3 separate regions of the Homo sapiens genome follow, and regions 1 and 2 are each linked to region 3. Evidence: fine-mapped expression QTL. A gene starts in region 3. Each other region holds a variant in brackets. All regions are shown on one strand. Distances are from middle to middle.

What was found. PIP is the estimated chance that this variant, and not a neighbour inherited with it, causes the effect.
Region 1: its variant is the best candidate, but not a certain one, in a credible set for the expression of OPHN1 in T cells (TOPMed, PIP 0.68).
Region 2: its variant is the best candidate, but not a certain one, in a credible set for the expression of OPHN1 in tibial artery (GTEx, PIP 0.62).

Annotation. Positions count from the first base shown.
Region 1 is chrX:68,397,143-68,401,383 of GRCh38, reverse strand. All of the region lies in intron 2 of OPHN1 (oligophrenin 1), which reads left to right. Among named protein-coding and RNA genes, the nearest start is that of OPHN1, 34 kb to the left of the region's middle. The variant C/T (reference allele first, on the strand shown) is at 1,737.
Region 2 is chrX:68,079,689-68,083,929 of GRCh38, reverse strand. The region is part of intron 19 of OPHN1 (oligophrenin 1); the gene reads left to right. Among named protein-coding and RNA genes, the nearest start is that of NXTAR, 300 kb to the right of the region's middle. The variant G/C (reference allele first, on the strand shown) is at 1,829.
Region 3 is chrX:68,431,754-68,435,994 of GRCh38, reverse strand. OPHN1 (oligophrenin 1) reads left to right here and starts at 2,500. Exons shown (of 25, transcript NM_002547.3): 1 at 2,500-2,827; 2 at 2,971-3,128. The coding sequence starts at 2,975.

The DNA of each region.
Region 1 (4,241 bases), 35 kb after region 3:
AGTCTATCTAGAATCTTTCTAGAGCGGGCCAAATGCCACCACCTTTGAGGATATCTTCTCAGTTAGAATTAACCCTTTGTTCCTTGATGTTCACTTACATGTTGTTTACACTGTACTTGTAGCTGTCTGTCTCATTACTAAGTTAGCTGTATTGTGAATATCTCCCTTCCTTCTTTGGAGAGGGATTGGTTCTGATTTATTACTGTATATCTAATATGGTTTGGATTTGTGTCCTCACCCAAATCCCATGTTGAATTGTAATCCCCAATGTTGAAGGTGGTGCCTGGTGGGAAGTGAAAGGATCATGGTGGCAGTTTCTTGTGGTTTAACACCATCCTCCTTGGTGCTGTCGTCATGATAGTGAGCTCTTGTGAGAGCTGATTTTTTAAAAGTGTGTGGCACTTCCCCACCTCTTCTTGCCCCTGCTCTGGCCATGTAGGATGTGCCTGAAAGAAAAAATAACAACAACAAAAGACATGCCTGGCCAGGTGCAGTGGCTCACACTTGTAATACCAGCACTTTAGGAGGCAGAGGCGGGTGAATCATCTGAGGTTGGGAGTTCGAGACCAGCCTGGCCAACATGGCGAAACCCTGTCTTTACTAAAAATAGAAAAATCAGCCAGGCATGGTGGTGCACGCCTGTAATCCCAGCCACTCAGGGGACTGAGGCAGGAGAATTGCTTGAGCCCAGGAGTCGGAGGTTGCAGTGAGCCGAGATCATGCCACAGCACTCCAGCCTGGGCAACAGAGCGAGACTCCATCTCAAAAAAAAAAGAAAAAAGAAAAAAGAAAAAAAAGAGAGAAGAAAGACGTGCCTGCTTCCCCTTCGCTTTTCCCCATGATTGTAAGTTTCCTGAGGCCTCCTTAGAAGCAGAAGCCACTATGCTTCCTGTACAGCCTGCAGAACTGTGAGCCAATTAAACCTGTTTTCTTTATACATTACTCAGTCTCAGGCATTTTTTTTATAGCAGTGTGAGAACAGACTAATACAATATCTCATGCTGATTAGCACAGTACCTGGCTCATAATATCACCGGTAGAGGGTTGTGACTGCAAGTTGTCCAGGTTCTTGGCGTTTTGGACAAAGAATTGGACAAAACGCCCTGCAAAGCAAAGAAAGAATGAAGCAACAAAAGAACGAAACAGGGATTTATTGAAAACAAAAATATACTCCACAGTGTGGAAGCAGACCCAAGCAGTGGCTCAAGGGCCCAGATACAGAATCTTCTTGGATTCAAATACCCCCTAGAAGTTTCCCATTGGCCATTTCATGCTCACCTCATGTAAATGAAGTGGTAGCCCAGAGTCAGTCTGATTGGTTGCAGAAAGCAGTCGACCAGAGGCTGAAGTGAAGTTACAAAGCTCACACTCCTCTGCAAACATCCTATTGGTTACAGAAAGCAACCAATCAGAGCCTGTAATCCCAGCTACTCAGAAGGCTGAGGCGGGAGAATTGCTTGGACCCGGGAGGCAGAGGTTGCATTGAGCCAAGATAGTGCCATTGTGCTCCAGCCTAGGCAATGAGAGCGAAACTCTGTCTTAAAAAAAAAAAAAGAAAGAAAAAAAAAGAAACTAAAACAAGACCAATGTAGTTGGAAGGTATGGAGTAGTTGCCCAATCACTCAGGGCCTATAGGTCATGCTAGGGAGATATAGCGTGAACCCCTCAGAGGGTTTTATTTATTTATTTATTTATTTATTTTTATTTATTTATTTTGAGACAGAGTCTTGCTTTGT[C/T]GCCCAGGCTGGGGTGCAGTGGCACGATCTCGGCTCACTGCAACCTCTACCTCCTGGGTTCAAGCATTTCTCCTGTCTCAGCCTCCTGAGTAGCTGCGATTACAGGCATGTGCCACCACGCCCAGCTAATTTTTATTTATTTATTTATTTTGTAATTTTAGTAGAGACGGGGTTTCGCCATGTTGGCCAGGCTGGTCTTGAACTCCTGACCTCAAGTGATCCGCCCACCTCAGCCTCCCAAAGTGCTGGGATTACAGGCATGAGCTACTGTCCAGCCCCTCAGATGGTTTTAAATAGGAAGATTCAAGTGATGTGCTTTATATTTTGAGCTTACTCTGGCTGCACAGTGGAGAATGAATTCAAGACAGGCAAGAATGGGTGAAGGGAGACCGGTTAGGTGGTAGTTGCAGTGGTATAGGTGGAAGAAGTTGATGGCTTGGATGAGGGTGGAGATGGAGAGAACTGTATTAATGGGATATTTAGGAGTTTACATAAATCGGACTTGGTGATAAATTGGATATGGAAGGTTGGGGAGATGGAGATATCAAAGATGGCTCACTGGTTTGTAAATAGATGGTGGGGCCATTCTTTGAAATGGTTAATTCTGGAGAGGACCAGTTTTGTGGAGAAGGTTTGGCATATTATTACTATACACACACACACACACACACACACACACACACACACTTTTTTTGTTTTGAGACAGAGTCTTGCACTGTCACCTAGGCTGGAGTGCAGTGGCACAATCTCAGCTCACTGCAAACTCTGCCTCCTGGGTTCAAGTGATTCCCGTGCCTCAGCCTCCTGAGTAGCTTGGATTACAGGCGCCCACCACTACGCCTGGCTAATTTTTGTAGTTTTAGTAGAGACAGGGTTTCGTCATATTGGCCAGGCTGGTCTCGAACTCCTGACCTCAGGTGATCCGCCCACCACGGCCTCCCAAAGTGCTGGGATTACAGGCGTGAGTCACTGGGCCTGGCCAGATTTTGTATATATTTAGGACCCTCCCTGATTCCCAGTCTAAGGTAGCACATTGCCTTTAAGTTAGGGCCTTAGCTGTCTGATATTGTGTAAATGTGATCCTAATTCAAGACAGGCGGACCAGAGCAAGTGACTTCTTTATAAACCTGATAGCCCTGTGTTTCTGTGTGGTTTCTTTTCCACCATTAAATGCATCATCACCACAGCAGTGGAATACATAGAAGGGGTTGGAGAACATTTCGTGGGTTTAAAAATTTCAAGTGAAAAATATGTTGGATTGAAATCTTTGGAAACTATTCCACTGGGCTATTATAGTTGCAGCTGAAAACAATTAATGGAGCAGCAGATGAAAAACCAAAACATGCAAGCATTGGGGCACTGTGGAATAAGGGGATCATTTAGGTGGGCCTTTCTACCATTGGATAGGGCATAAATTGAGAAAAGTGCACATGTAGTCATGAGCAAGTATTAAAGTGTCTCCCCAAAATACTAGCAAATAGTGAGCTAATAAATGGAGGTGGAGAAAAATAAAAGGCAAGGGACAATATAAGATCAAAGACAGCTTCTGTTTCTTTGCAGCATTTTGTGCCCCCACTCTGGCAGGTTTTCTACAGATGCTCTGATCAGGAACCAGCTGGCCCCAGGGCTGGCTCTCAGTCTCTCCTGGCAGTCCCCACACCCCAAGCAAGATCATTAAATCATCCTTTTGTTAAGGGACGATGGGAGGAGCCTAATCTGAGAAAAAGAAAAGTAAGGAAGAACAGGGTTACACCTGCCAGTGATAAAAGGAAGACTGTGGCAATAAGGGAAAAAAGCCCAGGGAATTAAGAAAGGGTTAACCTGTGGCCAGGCACAGTGGCTCATGCCTATAATCCCAGCACTTTGGGAGGCCGAGGTGGGTGGATCACTTGCGGTCAGGGGTTCGAGATCAACCTGGCCAACGTGGTGAAACCCTGTCCCTACTAAAAATACAAAAATTAGCTGGGCGTGGTGGTGGGTGCCTGTAATCCCAGCTACTTCGGAGGCTGAGGCAGGAGAATCACTTGAACCTGGGAGGTGGAGGTTGCAGTGAGCCGAGATTGTGCCACTGCACTCCAACTGGGGCAACAGAGTGAGACTCTGTTTCAAAAAAAAAAAAAAAATAAATAAATAAATAAAAGAAAAAAGTGTCAACCTAACATAACAGACCAAAAAAAAAAAAAAAAAGAACATAAAAGACAAACAGAAACAGGCTGTCAGGATTCAGGATGTGATAAGGCTGCAGTATGGAAATGGATTCAGCTACCTGGGAAACTTGCAGAGTTGCAATTGAAAAAGTTAATGATGTTCTCCGATAAGAAGCCTGGGGCACTGAGAAGGCCTGTTTTGTAACTCTGGGAATCCTTTAGCCAGCCACTGTGGTCCCTGGTTTATAGCCAATTAGAAGTTAGAAAGAAAAATGGAAAAAACAACCAAAGGAAAAAGTTGTTAACAGCTGCTATGATTTTATCTAAATAGAACTTCCATTACAGGCTGTGAGAAGAT
Region 2 (4,241 bases), 350 kb after region 3:
CATGAACTACACCCAGACAAGATAGCAAACTTAATAAGTAAATGTTGTATGTTCTGACTGCTCCGCCGATCAGCCATTCCTCATCCCTCTCCCTCTCATGCTTCCCTATTCCCTGAGACACAACAATATTGGAATTAGGCCAATTAAAAACCCGACAAAGGCCTCTAAGTATGCAAGTGAAAGAAGGAGTTGCATGTCTCTCATGTTAACTCAAAAGCTAGAAATGATTAAGCTTAGTTAGGAAGGCATGTTGAAAGCTGAGATAGGCTGAAAGCTAGGCCTCTTGTGCCAAACAGTTAGCCAAGTTGTAAATACAAAGGAAAAATTCTTGAAGAAAATTAAAAGTGCTACTCCAGTGAACACACAAATGATAAGAAACCAAAATAGCCTTATTGCTCATAGGGAGAAACTTTTAGTGGTCTGGATAGAAAATCAAACCAGCCACAACATTCCCTTAAGCCAAAGCCTAATCCACAGGAAGGTTGTAACTCTTCAATCTGTGAAGGCTGAGGAAGTAAGGAAGCTGCAAAAGAAAAGTTTGAAACTAGCAGAGGTTGAGGCCGGGCGCGGTGGCTCACGCCTGTAATCCCAGCACTTTGGGAGGCCGAGGCGGGTGGATCATGAGGTCAGGAGATCGAGACCATCCTGGCTAACAAGGTGAAACCCCGTCTCTACTAAAAATACAAAAAATTAGCCGGGCGCAGTGGCGGGCGCCTGTAGTCCCAGCTACTCGGGAGGCTGAGGCAGGAGAATGGCGTGAACCCGGGAAGCGGAGCTTGCAGTGAGCCGAGATTGCGCCACTGCAGTCCGCAGTCCGGCCTGGGCGACAGAGCGAGACTCCGTCTCAAAAAAAAAAAAAAAAAAAAAAAAAAAAAGAAACTAGCAGAGGTTGGTTCATGATGTTTAAGGAAATAAACCAGTTCCATGACATAAAAGTGCAAGGTGAAGCGACAAGTGCTGATGTAAAAGCTGTACCAAGTTATCCAGAAAATGCAGCTAAGATCATTGATGAAGGTGGCAACACTAAAAAACACATTTTCAGTGTACATGAAATAGCCTTCTGTTGGAAGAAGATGCCATGTAGGACTTTCATAGCTGCAAAGAAGTCAATGCCTGGGTTCAAAGTTTCACAGGACAGGCTGACTCTTTTCATTAAGGACTAATGCAGCTGGTGAAGCCAAGGCTCATTGACCATTCTGTAAATCCTAGGGCCCTTAAGAATTATGCAAAATCTACTCTGCCCATGCTCCATATGTGGAACAACAAAGCCTAAGTGACAACACATCTGTCTACAGAATGTTTTACTGAATATTTTAAGCCCACTCTTGAGACCTACTGCTCAAAAGAAAAGCTCTCTTTCAAAATATCACTGCCCATTAACAATGTAGTAATCACCCAGCAGCTCTGATGGAGATGTGCAAGGAGATTAATGAATGTTGTTTCCATGCCTACTAATACAACATCCATTCTGCAGCCCATGGATCAAGGAATAAAGTAACTTTCCAGTCTTATTATTTAAGAAGTAGATTTCATCAGGATTTAGATCCCATAGATAGTGATTCCTCTGATGAATCTGGGCAAAGTAAATTTAAAACCTTCTGGAAAGCATTCACCAATCTAGATGTCATTAAGAATATTAATAATTTATGAGAGGAGGTCAAAATATCAACAAAATAACAGAGGTTTGAAAAAGTTAATTACAACCTTCATGGCTGACTTTGAGGAGCTTAACCCTTCAGTGGAGGAAGTAACTGTAGATGTGGTAGAAATAGCAAGAGAACTAGAATTAGAAGTGGAGCCTGAAGACGTGACTGAATTGCTGCCATAT[G/C]AGGATAAAAGTTCAATGGATGAGAAGTTACTTTTTATGGATGAGCAAAGAAAATGGTTTCTTGAGGTGGAATCTACTCCTGGTGAAGATGCTGTGAACATTGTGGAAATGATAACCAAGGATTTAGAATATTGCATAAACTTGGTTTACTAAAGCAGTGGCCGGGTTTGAGAGGAGTGACTCCAATTTTGAAAGAAGTTCTGAGGGTAAAATGCTATCAAACAGCATGGCATGCTACAGAGAAATTTTTTTTTGTGAAAGGAAGAGTCAATTGATGCAGCTAACTTCATTGTTGTCTTCTTTTAAGAAATTGCCATAGCCACTCCAGCCTTCAGTAAGCACCATCCTGATCAATCAGCAGTCATCAACATAGAAGCAAGACCCTCCACCAGCAAAAAAGGGTATGATTTGCCAAAGGCTCTGGTGATTGTCAGCATTTTTTAGCAATAAATTATTTTTAATGAAGGGATGTATACCTTATTTTTAGGAATCATGCTATTGCACACTTACTAGACTACAGTATAGTATAAGCACCATGAAACCAGAAAAAATTGTGTGGCTCAGTTTATTGTGATACATATTTTATTCTGGTGGTCTGGAACCAAATCCACACTATCTCCTAGGTATGTCTGTATGTTACCTCATTCAACCATCACAACAACCCTATGAGGTAGATGGTATCACTATTCTCATTTTGCAGCTGACATTTTCAAAATGCAAACTGAGCTTCAAGTTTGAGATTCATATAGTTTAAGTTTCTTGCCCCTGGTTACATAGCAAAGCTCCAACACAACTGACTCTGACTCTGTCCTGACTCTTTGACCTCTACTTTGTACTCTCTCACCTCTATTTTGTACTCTCTCTTCCCAATTATAGTTGGTGAAGGAATAAATGAAAAAAAAAGTTCTATTATTTAATATGCTCTAAAGGGCCTGGTAGCCAAAATTCATCCATTCATTTTAAAAACTGTCATTGAGCTGCTTTATCTTGCCTCGTGCCCTACTCAGCCCTAGTCTCTAGAGAGGAATCACGAAAAAAAATCTCTGCTGTCAGAAAAGTTATGGGACTTGGGGGTATCTGGAACCAACTAACACTCAGGATGCAGTGTAATAAAGACTGTGGTGAAGATGTGCATTGGATGCTGTGGGAGCCCATGGAAAGGGAACTTACCTCTCTATTGGGAATCAGAGAAGTCTTCATACAGTGGGTAATGCATGATGTGAGTCCTGAAAATCAGAGGAGTAGATTAATTGATTAACCTTCTGTAAGAAAAGTCCTCCTATAACAGAGGACTGCAAATTATTTGGCTTAAATATGATGGAGAGGAGTTCATTTTTCTCTCACATAAAAGTCTAGCAGTGAATAGTCCAAGATCAATGACATACTTCTGCCATCCTCACCACTTGGCTTCAGTTTCTTGATCCTAGATAGCTATTCCATTTGTCCCCATTTACTAGCCAGAGAGAAAGGGAAAAAAAGACAGAATGTAATACAGACAGCTTCTTCATAAAAGCATGACCCAGAGGCTTTCATGCATTATTTCTACTTGTATTCTGTTATCTAAAACTTAATCACATGTCCTTACCTAGCTGCAAGGGAGACTAAGAAAGGTAGGCATGGGTGCCCAGCTACCATTCAGTGACTTCCATTAGTAAAAGTAAGAAGGGGAAGGTGGGTACCAGTAAGCAATTAGCAGTCTCTTCCATAAAGGGTAAGAGTGAAAGTGTTCTGTGTATAGATCACTCTGGATACATACAGGAATGAGACACCAGAGAAATTAAGTTCCATAAAATAACCAAAGAACTAAATAACTAAGAGACTAAAGAACTTTAATAATTCAGCATGGCTATAGTGGAGGGTGAATGTAGGGGAATAGTGGAAGATGGGGAAGATGGGGCTGGAGATTTCAGGATGTGGCCAGATTATTGAGTACTTTGTGTGCTAACTAAGGAATTTGGCCTTTGTCCCGAAGACAGTGAAGAGTCATTGAAACATTTTAAGCAGTGGAGTAACACAATTAGATTAGAGTTGAGAAAGATCACTCTACCTGCACTTGGGTAGACAGATTAAAGACAGGAGTGGCTGGAGACAGAAGGAACAATTAGGAGACTATTATAATCATAGAGAGACATGATGAGACTCAACCAAGTCAGTGGTAGTGAGCAGAGGGGACAGATTAGAGAGACATTAAGGAAGTATAATTGATAGAACTTGGTGACTAAATGGATGTGGGATGTGAGAGAGGGGGAGGATTTTAAGATAATAATGTCCAGATTTGTGGCTTGGACATTGGCATTGTTTTAGATAATAAAAAATTTTAAGGGACGAAAGTGTTTAATTCTAGAAATGTTGAATTTGAGATACCTCTGGGATATCCAGAAGGCAACATTGAGCAGTTAGTTAGATATATTGG
Region 3 (4,241 bases):
CAGATGAGTATGATTGAATCTAACATCAATAATGTCAACAGCAGCTGGGCATGGTGGCTCACACCTGTAATCCCAGCACTTTGGTGGGGGCTGCAGTGGGTGGATCCCTCTAGCCCAGGAGTTTGAGACTAGCCTAGCCAACATGGTGAAACCCCGTCTCTACAAAAAAATACAAAAATTGGCCAGGTGTGGTGGCATGTGCCTGTAGTCCTAGCTACTCAGGAGGAGGCTGAGGTGGGAGGATCACCTGAGCCCAGGGAGGTCGAGGCTGCAGGGAGCCGTGATTGAGCTATTGATTGCACTTTAGCCTGGGCAACAGGGTGAGACCCTTTCTCAAACAAAAAAATACATAAATAAATAAAATTTTAAAAAATGTCAATGGCAATTTTTATAGTGATGAAAATATATGTATAGGCTTTATAAATAAAAGTATATAGCAGGTGTTCAAAAAATGCTTGTTAAACGAGTGAATGAATGCTAAAAGGAAACTTACTAGTGTGAAAGACCATATACCCATTGAATGGGTACCTTCCCTTAGTACCTGCATTTTTCAACCCATGGTGCATTTAAAGCTCATTTTGGACATTTTCCCATAAATTAACCTTAAAGATAAAAAGAGTAAGAAACAAAACTTTCCCCTGAGATGTGGCTACTTATTTATTTTCAGAGGGCGTTTTCTCATTGCCATTCTGCTATATAGTGTAGTGGTCAAGAGCACTACCTCTAGAGCCAGCCAGGCTGGGCTCAAGTTCAAGTGCTGCCATTTAACTAGCTGTTTGTCCTTCGGCAAGTCACTTAAACTCTCTTTGACCCAGCTTCTCCATCTTTAAATGGGTATAATAATAAAACCATCCTCATAGGGTTGTTTTGAAGATTAGTGAGATGGGCGATAGGTTGTGTGGTGGGTAGAATAATGTTTCCTCCTTCACAGATGTCCATGTCCTGAAACCTGTGGCTACGTTATCTTATGTGGCAAAATGAAATTTGCAGATGTGATTAAGGATGATGTGATGGGGGAGATTATCCTGTGGACCCAGTGTAATCATAAGGGTCCTTAAGGGGAGGCATGAGAATCACAGTGATGTAGCATGAGAAAGACTTGACTGGCCAGTGCTAGCTTTAAAGACGGAGGAAGGGAGCTATGAGCCAAAGGATGTGAGCAGCTTGAGCCGGAAAAGGTAAGGAACCAGATTCTACCCCTAGACTATCTGAAAATGAACACAACCCTTCTAACATCTTGATTTGATCCCAGTGAGGCCCATTTCTGATTTCTGCCTTCTGGAACTGTAGATTATAACTTTATGCTGATTTAGGACATCAAGTTTGTGGTAATTTGTCACAGCAGCAACAGGACCCTAATTCAGGTGGGTCAGCCACTATTATTCTATTTACAACCCCCTTCCGTTCTGGCTTTCTTCACAGGGCAATCTAATGTAAACACTTCTGCAGAATTAAAGGGATCTCTTTGCCCACGCACAAACTATTTTTTAGTTTTTCGAGCCTCTACCTACCCTTAGTCTCAAGACAGCTGCCTTTAAGGTAAGCTGCAAGACAATTTATAACATCCTATTCTTAGACTTTCCACTTACACATGGAAAATCATATGCATTATCGGCGTCTGCCACAAAAGCCATGCTCTGAGGTCCTATTCAGGAAAATATTAACTCTGAATTATGGCCTCCCTTTCTTTGGCAGGGGGCACTGAGCTTCACGGAGACCCTAGAGTAGGAATCAACCCTTCAGGTCGAAGGCCCAAGGGAATTAGAGCACTTAGAGCAGGAGACATGGGAAAAGAAAGAGGAAAAGAAGTTGGTAGGTCCGAAGGAGGCTGGAAAGAGGGGAAGGCAAAAGAATACACAACCCAGCCGAATCATGGGAATTGAGAGATGGCTTCCTGCAATCTAGTCTTGCGGGTTCTTGCTCTAGTTTCGGAAACTTCCCCCGCAGAGTCCAGCGCCGCGCACCTGCCCCTTGGGGCCGGTCCCTGCGCAGGAGCCTGCGGCAGGCTGGGAATGCCGTTCTGGGAGAGCAGCCTCCCAGGCGGGGTGGTGGGGAGACTGCAGGGAGGAGTCTTGGGGAGTGCAAACGGAAAGACTACATCTCCCAGGCCGCCACGCTTTCCAGCTGGAGTCCTAGGGCGCTGACTGCTCCCCAGTTTCCGTAGGGAAGCGCTGGGCTACCGCGGCTATTGTGCGTCGCGCTCTCGCCCTCCTCTTCCCGCTGCAGTGTCTATGGAGCGAGGCTACGTTTCATTGCCGCCCTGGCTTAACCCTTCCGGCGCCTAAAAGGACGGCCGGCCGGCCGGCTCCCTTGCACCAGGAAGAAGTCTTAGCAGCCAGCGGGCCCTGGTCAGGAAACTCTAAGGTACAAGGAAAACAGTTGAGGAAGGAGCCAGAGCGCTCCGGTTTGGTCCTCGGGCTTCGCTGGGGCGGGGCGCAGGCGTTGGCTTTAAGAAAGGGGAGGGGACAGTGCAATCCGGGTTGCCCGCGGAGTTCGGCCAAGGAAGTCTTCCGCTCGCTCCGGAGCGAGGAGCCTGTAGAGAGGCTGTTCCCAGCTCCAGCTCTAACCTCGCCTACACCTTGGGCGGGCCCAAGTGTCACGTTTGCAATTGCTCAGGAAGGATCCGGCCCGTCTCCGGAGGCAAGTCGGGCTGCGGTTTTTGCTGCTTATCTGGGAAGGCGATGCCTAAGGGACATGCTGCTTGCTAGGCAGCACCCTGCCGGGATCCGACTGCGATAGTTAGCTCTCCCTGGCCCTGAAGCCATCGCCGGGGCGCCTGTTCTCTGTCCGGACCAGCCAGCGCTCCTCAGGAGTCTCACTGAAACAGGTACCTGTCCTCCAAAGGGACGGAGGCTATGAGCTTCCTTAAGCGGGTCGCGCGCTCAGTCCGTCCCCTCTACTTCCTCTACTGTGCCATTGATGCTCTCGGTCTTTGTGTCTTTCCCCTTTCCCCCTACTCCCGGCCATCAGAACCATGGGTCATCCCCCGCTGGAGTTCAGCGACTGCTACCTGGACAGCCCCGATTTCCGCGAGAGGCTCAAGTGTTATGAGCAGGAACTGGAGAGGACCAACAAATTCATCAAAGACGTAATCAAAGACGGCAACGCGCTTATCAGCGCTATGAGAAGTAAGTGCAAGGCTTCGATGAGCTGTTTCTCTGAGCTGGTGTGTCTGGCCTTTAAGCCTTTCCACACCACCAGGGGAAGGGAGATTGCAGGGTGACTCCCAGCCCAGATCTCTGAGGCAAATGGGTTTCCCACACTTGGGGAGTGGAGATAGTAGAAGTGGAAAGTGGTGGATACAACCAGAACTTTGGGCCTTTTCCTTTAGTGGTTTTGACCTTATAAGACGTGATCCGTAGCTGTGCCAGGGACCCTCTTGCTCAGCAATTACCCTTACTTGGCAGATGATTGTTCTTAAGGGACAATCTGCTGTACTGTTAGACATATTCAGCACCCCTGTCTGGGGCAAAGTGACATCCAAGCTGACCAAGGAACTGCCCCAGCACCTCCTAAACAATTGGGGATTAAGGTCAGCAGCTTGAATAATAATTTTGTCCTGGTCTCTGGTTGCTACAGATAAGTGTGGGGGGCAGTAAAAAATTCGCCATGGCAAGTTATTTTTTAAGGAAAGCACCTTTGCCCCAGTGAATTATTTTCTTTATCACACTGAGCTATGGTTTAGGTCAAGGTCAGTCTAAGTTCAGGATTATTGGATGGCTTCACCTGCCACTGAATTCTGCTTGAGTGTGGAACAAAGAGCTGACTACTTAGTCCCTGCCACAAGGGGCCCAGCCCCCAGGGAGTAAAATAGGGATAGGGTTGGGGGCTGCTGGGCTGAAGGAACTTCACCTAGCTTCGCTTTTCCAGTGCTCACAGCTGACTCAGCTGTGGGAAGCTCTCTCCTTCCCCCATTGTGTGTGGAGGTTTTTTTTCTGCTTGTTGGTAGGAGGCTTGGAGTAAAAGAAAGAATAATAAACATCCCCAACGAGAGTGCAGGCAAGCCAACCCTTTATGCCAAAGCATATACACAGAAGAATGGAGGGTAATGATTGGGTGGAGTGATAATTAATTTTTTCTCTTGGCTGAAAGATGATTGTGAAAAATAAACTCAGAGTCATTGGCAAGTATGTCCTATATGGTTATAACTTTGTTTTGAGTGAATTTATCACCAAATACAGGGTCTAGGACCAGTGTGGCAACCTTCTTAGGCGGATGCAGTCAACCAAGAGCAGGGAGAA